2 separate regions of the Homo sapiens genome follow, and region 2 is linked to region 1. The links come from fine-mapping of genetic effects on gene expression. A gene starts in region 1. The other region holds a variant in brackets. All regions are shown on one strand. Distances are from middle to middle.

What was found.
Region 2: its variant is fine-mapped to the expression of STX11 in blood mononuclear cells (TOPMed, PIP 0.96).

Annotation. Positions count from the first base shown.
Region 1 is chr6:144,148,058-144,152,451 of GRCh38, reverse strand. STX11 (syntaxin 11) reads right to left here and starts at 1,935. Exons shown (of 2, transcript NM_003764.4): 1 at 1,749-1,935. RefSeq lists a silencer at 1,809-2,248.
Region 2 is chr6:144,186,990-144,191,319 of GRCh38, reverse strand. It overlaps STX11 (syntaxin 11), which reads right to left. Exons shown (of 2, transcript NM_003764.4): 2 at 1-4,330. The coding sequence ends at 3,829. Among named protein-coding and RNA genes, the nearest start is that of TRL-TAA1-1, 27 kb to the left of the region's middle. The variant T/C (reference allele first, on the strand shown) is at 2,304.

The DNA.
Region 1 (4,394 bases):
CATGTATCAAATGAAGAATAGGCTGCCTACAAAGACAAGTAAATGACTAAACTCAAAAGTTTCCTTGCTCTTCCAGCCATGACCCAGTCCATTCCAAATCCCAGATCTTCAGAAACATCAGTCATATTGGGACAGAAACTTTTCTCTGGGTATAGATTTACCCTAGCACCTATCTCATTATATTGAATTTTCCAGCATATTTAAATAAACTATTAATTAGTCACACTATTTCTTAAAAGTCACACTATCAACTAATCGTGACCGCAATTATCTAGGGGTGATAATCTGCTGAGTCTACTCTTTAAATACACTGGGACCCAGCATATTGAGTTATATTGGCACAGAAACTTCACTCTGGGTATAGATTTACCCTAGTACCTTGCCGGCAGGATCCTATTATTCATGGTTGTACAAGCAAGGTTCAGGGAAGAGGCTGGCACAGAGAAGGTACCTGGTAACTGTTGTTTGAGGCTGAATTCAGCTCAACTCAGCTCCAGTAGAGATGGTGTCCCCTTCTCTACCGTGTTGAGATAGTGTGCAGTCCCTTCCTAAGGGCTGTTACCCACCGCAATAGGACTTGTCAGCTTCAACTTTTAAATTTCTCTGCTCCCGCTGGGACCCACCCGCTTCAAAAATCATCATGTGGTTTTAGCACCAATTTAGTAAACACAAACTGTCTGAAATATTTTGATTTTAGAGAGTTACTTACAATCACCACATTAAATGATACCTTTCTCCCATGCAGTGAAAATGACAGCAAAATGGTCATTGAATAATGAAATTAATTTTCTCTTGGGCATCTGTGGCAAAGCACATGATTTCAATGGTTATCTTAGATCAGCCCAGTGACCTTTACTGGCATGTTGTAACATCAGGCGCCTTAGGAAACTGAAAACTCAATCGTCACTTCCCATACCACTGCCCCAGGTTGGCAGGGCAGGCATTTCACATCTAGAGTCTCATTTTAAAGCAAGCCTCGCTTTTCAAAAGTTCATTAACAAAGTCTCACAATTAAGAGAGCAGCCCTGTGACTCATTTTTGGATACCTGTAAATAACAGCTCCTCCCTCTGCTGAGAAACGGCTGAAACAAGTGCGTGAGAACCACAGGAAGTAATACAGATCTCAGCTGGTGTCAGCGGAGTCTAGAAAAAGGCAGAATTCCCTCTCAGGACGGCGTGGCTCTCGCAGGCATTGCCACTACTTCTCTCCATGTTTCTAAAACAAAGTCTTACGTGGGCTTCGAAGGGACTCCTCGAAGGCTCTATCAATTTCTCCGTCTTTCCTGGCTACTGAGTGACACCGCCAAGTTCAAGTCAAGAAGTACCCATTCTGGTGTTTTTGACACAGTCACCCTACTAGGAAGTGAAGAGGTGATAATAAAAAAACACTCCAGCCTTTCGATTTAAAATAAAAGTAGTCTTGGGTGGACACTTTATAAAGGCAGCCTACCAACAGGTATCCCTAAAATAATTCTTACGAAGCACTAAATCCTAAGTCCCTCAGCCTCTGAAATTAAAAGTAATTTTAAAAAATCATTCTGCTTTATATGAGAAACCCAATGCTGTGTTTCCGAAGGTGCCCAGAGGCGGCGTGAGGACCTGCGCCAGATCCAAAATCCCACCTAAGGCACAGCCGCGGGTCCCGAGCCTAGACAGTGCCCCCGCCCCGACCCGCCCTCCCCGATCTCTCCGCGCACGGGGAAAATAGTCAGGAAGAGAAATGGGGGCTCAGGAAGAGAAAAACAAACCTGGACTGGGAGCGAGAGTGCGAACCGAGAAGCCCCTCTCCCGGCAGGGCGCGCGTCCCCTGTGGGCGCAGCGATGGAGAAGGAAACCTGTTGCGCGACTCCCGGCGGCTCCGCTCCCGGCGCCTCCTGCGGCCGAGGCTGAGTTCCTCCACGGCCGCCCGAGCTCCGCGCCGCCGCGGCCGCATCTGGGCGCCGCCGGCTCAGCCCCCGCCGCTTAGGAAGCGACCACAGCTGGGGACCAGGCCCCGCCCCGGGATGACAGCGCTGGGGCGCGGCGGCAGCCGGCTCACAGAGCGCGGGTTCCCGCCCCACCCAGAGTCCATGCGCTCGGGACCGCCCGGAGCCGGGGACGCGCTCCAGCCCCTCCCGCAAGCCCAGGGGCGTTCCCGCGGGCTGCGCGGACCGGCGCGGGGAGTGGGATGTTTGCCGCCCAAGACACTTCCTCCGCTCGTCCTCTGGTCCCCAGGGCAGGGAGCGCGCTGGACTTCCCCCGGGAATCCCCGCTGCGCTGGTGACATTTGCAGTCCGGTGCGTTGCCGCGGCGAGGACGCTGGAAGCCGTCTCTGAGCGTGGGTGTGGCTGCGGAAGCTGCGGCAGGTCCTGCATCCCTGGGACCCTCGAGGACGCGGGCGAGGAGCCTGCGGTCACACGGAGGCCGAGCACCGCCTTCCCAGAACCCTGCCGACCAACCTCTCTCCAGTCGGCCTCAACACCCGCCGGGCTCATCATTCTCTGGATATCAACTGAGCGTCCCCTTGTGTGCCCACCGCGCTCAAAAATACTGCCAAGACCCACCCTCCAGGTCCCGGCACTTTAACGGGGAGGGATAAATAGAAAGTGTGGATTGTGCCAGGTGGTGGTAAAGCACCTTGAAAAACAAGGCTGAGGCTGAAAAGTAAGGAAGTGATACTCAAAAAAGGAAAAATCGGGCCGGGCGCGGTGGCTCACGCGCGTATTCCTAACACTTTGGGAGGCCGAAGGGGGAGGATCTCTTGAGCCCAGGAGTTTGAGACCAGCCTGAGCGATGTGGTGAAAGCCTATCTCTACAAAAAATAAAAAAATTAACTGGGCGTGGTGGCGCACGCTGTGATCCCAGCTGCTCGGGAGGCTAAGGTGGGAGGATCACTTGAGGCTGAGAGGTCAAGGATGCAGTGAGCCGAGATCGCGCCACTGTACTCCAGCCTGGGCGACAGAATGAGACGCTGTCTCAATTGAATGAGAAGAAAAAAAATAAAACTAAAGAACGAATCCTGCCTTGATGGCAGAATGTTTAGACACAGGAACCACCTGAAAGCTCCCAGTTGCCAAAGATGGAACCATTTGAGCAACGAAGTAAACTAAACAAGGTAGTATTGGATTACAAGCCAAAGTAAAAAAATCCATGAGTCTACACTGATATAAATAAATAATTGAATAAATAAATAAAAGGCGGAGAGGAGACAAATCTCCTATACAGAATAATTCCAAATAATTTATGTAGATCATGTACCCTAGGCTGTGCACAGTGACTTCCTCCAAAATAGTACAATGTGGAAAGGGAAAAACAGTAGGTTTACAATGGAGAAAGCCGACAGACACTACCCCAGCCAGATGTTCTAAGCCAACGTCAACAATCGTGACTCATTGATGGCATGTAGTCAATATGATGTGATGAATGTGGCATATTACATGTGTGGTCTCCCTCCTGGAAAACCATAACCTCAGTCTCATAATGAGAAAAATATCAAACAAATTCCAGTAGTGGAACATCCTACAAAATACCTGACCAATATTCCTCAAAGTTGTCAGGTTATCAAAAGTAAGGAAAGTACAGTCCAGACGTGGCTCACGCCTGTAATCCGTACACTTTGAGAGGCTGAAGCGAGAGGATTGCTTGAGGCCAGGAGTTCGAGGCCTGATCTGGCCGACATAGCCAGATGCTGTCTCTACAAAAAATAAAATAAAATAAGGAAAGTCTGAAAAACTGCCGCAGCCTAGAAGAAACTCAGGAGACGTGAAAACTAAATGTAATGTGGTATCCTGGATGGGATCCTGGGACAGAAAAAGGACTTGGGGAAAAACTAAGGAAATCTAAATAAAGCATGGACTTTCATTAGTAATAAGAATCAAGGTTGATTAATTAGTTGTGAGGAATGTAATGTAAGATGGTAATCATAGGGAAATCTGAAATGGAATTTATGGAAATTCTGTACTACCTTTGCAGTTGTTCTGTAAATCTAAAACGGTTCTAAAAAATACAGTTTATTTTAAAAGAAAGTAAAATAAGAGGGATGAGGTATGTTATATTTTTAAAAATGGGTATATTGCAAAGCCATCTAAGATAAGAGAATCATTGAGGGAGGAAACAATGCAGCTATTGGGATTAAGATCATTTCAAGCCTAGGAATCAGTGGATGTAAAGGCCCCGAGGCAGGAGCATGCTGGGCTTCTGGGAGAAATATCAGCGTGGGCAAAACAGAGTCCAGGAAGAGTGATGGTGGTGGGGCTAGGAGTGGGGAGTAGAGCATGTAGGGCATTGGTAGTCATGATAGTCTTTACATTTTACATTGATTGAGACAGGAAGACTGAAGAATGTTTATCAGAGAAGCTAAATGATGTTGCTGGTTGTTTTTTTAATCTACCGTTTTGTTGAGGACAGATTAAAGG
Region 2 (4,330 bases), 39 kb before region 1:
TGAATGACTGACATTTTTAAAATTCTAACTCATATTATCCTGGATACCGATGCATACTAGATGAGCACCTTTCCTAGTTAGGACATTTCTGGAGTTGTTACCACCTATAATCTGTGGCTTGGTGGTAGTTGTAAAATTTGATATTTGGCTAGTAGAAAGTAGTCACTGTATATGTTAAAATAGCTATAAAAGATTCTTACCTTCAGCTCCTGAAGGATCTATTGTTCTTTGTGATTTGTTCTTTCATTTTGTACCCTAAAAGATATGAGTGTATAAAATTTGCAGAATTGCCACAAGGTCTTCTTGGCCAAAGTCACCTTTCAGAGTTGCCAAGCAAGCATCATGAGATTGGTAAAGCCAGCTCTACAGCATCTCTTGGTGGCACTAGAACACAATTTCTTAAGGAAAAAGCCAGCATTTCACCCACTGCCTGGTGTGGCAGTCAGAGCCAGGAAGGGCTTTGGTGAATAGGCCAGGACGTGCAGTGGGCCAAATGATGCCTTCTCTTAGGTCAGTGACCCAGCCTCTACAACTTCCTACAACTCCTTCCAGGACTTTCTGACTCACAGCTTGGGAAGAATTAGGAAAGAACACCTGCCAAGCTGAGCAGAACAGCTGCTTCCTGCTTACGTGTTTTTGGTGGAACATCTCATTTCTTCTTCAGGACATGTTTGGATATACACAGGGATAGAAATGCCATAGTGAAAACATCTTTATGACTGTCAAAAAAAAAAAAGCCCTAATATTCACAGAAGATGGGGTCTTGGTTTCTTTATTCCATTTTATTATTTATTAAGACTGTTAACAAAAAATAGGCTTTATTTTTCCTCTGTACTTAAAAACTATAAATTTACTTGGGTCACTAACAGTGCTCTCAGTCTGAGAGAAAATTACATAATAACAACAATAATGAACAAAGCACTTAGCATGTGCCAGGCACTGTTCTAGGTGCTTTTACATATTCAGTCATCACTTTTCACAACAGCTCTATGAGGTAAGTACTGTTATCTCCGTTTTACAGATGAGGAAACTGAAGCACAGAAAAACCAAGGTTCAGTCAGACAGCTAGTATGTGGCAGAGTCAAGATTTAAATCTAAGAAACAGGATCTGGAATCTGTACTCCTAACCATTACGCCACACTGAGATGGTTCCCAAACAGCAGGAAGAAGAAGTGTTCTTTCCCTATAGGTAACAGTTCACTCATTCTTTTGGTGCAGTAATGGACAGTCTGTACCGAACTCTCCAATATAAAACGTGAGGAATTAAAATGTATATAGAGCCTGAAAACTCACTTACTTTTATAATGGTTCCAAGCAAAGAAAATGCTTTATGGGTTCAAACATGTCAAATTTATGAACTCTTCGTTTTTTTGTGGAAACTGGCTGGCAGTCTCTATTTACAATATCTCTCCTCTATTATAAAAAACATTGCAGTGGAGCTATGTGAACATTTTTTCCCCTTTCCCTTAGAGAAAGCAAATTAAGTCAAAGGTGATACATATCCTTGGAGTTGGCTGAAAAAGAAATTGGGAGAAATATGAGAATAGCCTTGTGGAACTTGGTTTCCACAATTCTCAAATTTAACCATGAAATTAAAATTAGATACAGGGGATAGATTTTCCTGGTCATAAGCAAGTCAGGCAGTGAGCTCCAAAGAATTCACATACTCCTCCTTCTAATTCTTTTAAAATTCCAGCTTCTAAAGGACCTGAGAAATATGATCACTACTAAACTCACTCATGTATTAAATAATGATTAGGAAGAGCTAAGAGTTGACACAGAGGAAGGCCAGGAAACATGGTAAATGTGGGTAAGGGCATTAAGAAGTTTGCAGACTACACCATATCTCTAAAGCCTCATGATTTTGCTAAAGTATTGTAACTCAGGAGAGAAAGCAAGACACCCTCATGGGAATTCTTTTGAGTTTTTCATTCTTTTCCCCCTCCACTCAGTTCCATCCAGATGTGGCAGCCTCAGTAGCTAGTAGAAAAAAAATTTGGCCAGGGTCAGTGGCTCAGGCCTGTAATCTCAGCACTTTGGGAGGCCAAGGTGGGCGGATTGCTCAAGCTCACAAGTTTGAGACCAGCCTGGGCCACATGGCAAACCCTGTCTCTACAGAAAATACAAAAATTAGCCGGGCATGGTGGCACATATCTGTAGTCTCAGCTATTTGTAGGCTGAGGTGGGAGGATCACTTGAGCCTGGGAGTTTAAGGCTGCAGTAAGCCATGATTATGCCACTGCACTTCAGCCTGGGTGACAAAGGGAGACCCTGTCTCAAAAGGGGGGAAAAAAGGCCAGGCA[T/C]GGTGGCTCACACCTGTAATCCCAGCACTATGGGAGGCTGAGGCGGGCGGATCACGAGGTCAGGAGATCAAGACCATCCTGGCTAACACGGTGAAACACCGTCTTTACTAAAAACATAAAAAATTAGCCAGACATTGTGGCACGCGCCCAGAGTCCCAACTTCTCAGGAGGCTGAGTCAGGAGAATCGCTCGAACCTGGGAGACAGAGGTTGCAATGAGCCAAGATCCTGCCACTGCACTCCAGCCTGGGCAACACAGTGAGACTCCATCTCAAAAAAAAAAAAAAAAAAAGGAAAAAGAAAAATTTTAACAATAATTGAGAAAGTAAACTAAATGGTCAAGCCAGAAATGTATAAAAATATGTGTATAATGTAATGTTTATTAAGCTTGCTTGAAAAACAGAATTCTTTTACTTTGAATTTCTCCATTTCAATGCATGGAAGGAATGGTCCACAGTAAAACAAAAGCAGTATTTCCAAGAATGTTAGTTGTCTCTAGCTCCGTATACATTTTCTACCGCCATATGTCTACCGCCATAACCAATGCAGAGTTGTTTAACATGAAGTTTGACCCAAACTGGACTAGGAAGGGGCAAACTGGAGTGAAACAAACTCAAAACAAGCAAACCAATACCAAGAGCCAGAAAAGTGTTCGTCTTGAAATTTATATACCATACTTACATAAAAGAAGTTAAACCAATTGATCATTATGTACATATATTAGTGAATATTAGTATTTTACATTTACATACATGTGCATATGTAATCAAGTAAAAATATAAATGTTAAATAATTTTTATCAGCGAAAAATACACAAAACATGACTGATACTTCAATTTGAGTGCTTGTTCGATATTCAGTGCTTAAAAATGTTTGGAAAAATAATACCAAAATATAACCTGGTGAAAGATATTTAAAAAGTGAAAGAGATAAGAAAATAGTAAGTGTTTGGTGTGATTTTAATAAGTAGGGGAAATGAGCAGAAATAAGATCTATATTTGGGGAGGAATTGCATAGCGTAGACCGGATGAAGAATCGGAAAGGAAGAACGTGGTTTTTCCCAAGGCCAATTTCGCTCAAAATGGAACAGAACCAGGGAATTTTCAGGACAAAGTAAATGAACTGAAGTTTCCATCATGAGTTCATTCTATTAGCAGATGCCCAATTGACTTCCTCCTTGAGTCTTTATTAGGAGGCAGGCCTCAGACATTCACCCTACAGTCAGATACAACTTCAGTTCCTTACTTGGCTTCTGTCAAGACGGTAAGAGTGCAAGGTGTCATATAATGACATTGCACAACTTTGTGGGAATCTATCTTTACTGAAGAATCATCGGACGGTATCAACTAACCATCTTTCCAAGCACAGGCTGGTTTGCAATTCTTGAACCTGGCGTTTCTTTTCTAAAGACTGAGTTCCGGAAAGGGTTGGGGCAACTCCCTGCAGGGCAGAGCTCCCGGCTTTGGTGCGTCCTTCCCAGCGCGCTCCATGGTCTGGGATGGGCGGTGGCGGCCCGGGCCGGCCTGCTACTTGAGGCAGGGACAGCAGAAGCAGCAGAGGGTCCGGCAGGGGTTCTTCTCCTCGTACTGCACGGCCTTCCGCACCTGCGCCTTGGCCTGGCCGGTGTAGTCGACCGTCTTTTGTACGTTGAGCTCGATGACGTTCAGGGTGTCGGCCTGCTTCTCCACCAGCACCGCCATCTGCAAGAAGAGCTCGTGTACGTCGCGGATGCGGCTCTCCAGGCGCAGCAGTTCGCGGTGGCGGCTCTCGATCTCGTTGAGGGCGGCCCGCGCGCCCTTCACGTCGGCCAGCAAGTTCTCGGAAAACACGTCCCACTTACCCTGCTCGAACATGTCCTCGATCTGGTCGCCCGAGACTTCCTTGCCCATGATCTCCAGCTGGCGCTGGATGCGGATCTTGCAGTTGTCGCGCTGCTTCATCTCGGCCTGGTTGTAGTCGTGCATGGCGCGCTGGAAGGTGAGGGTGAGCGCGTTGTACTGCGCCCGCGAAATGCGCGCCACTGCCGAG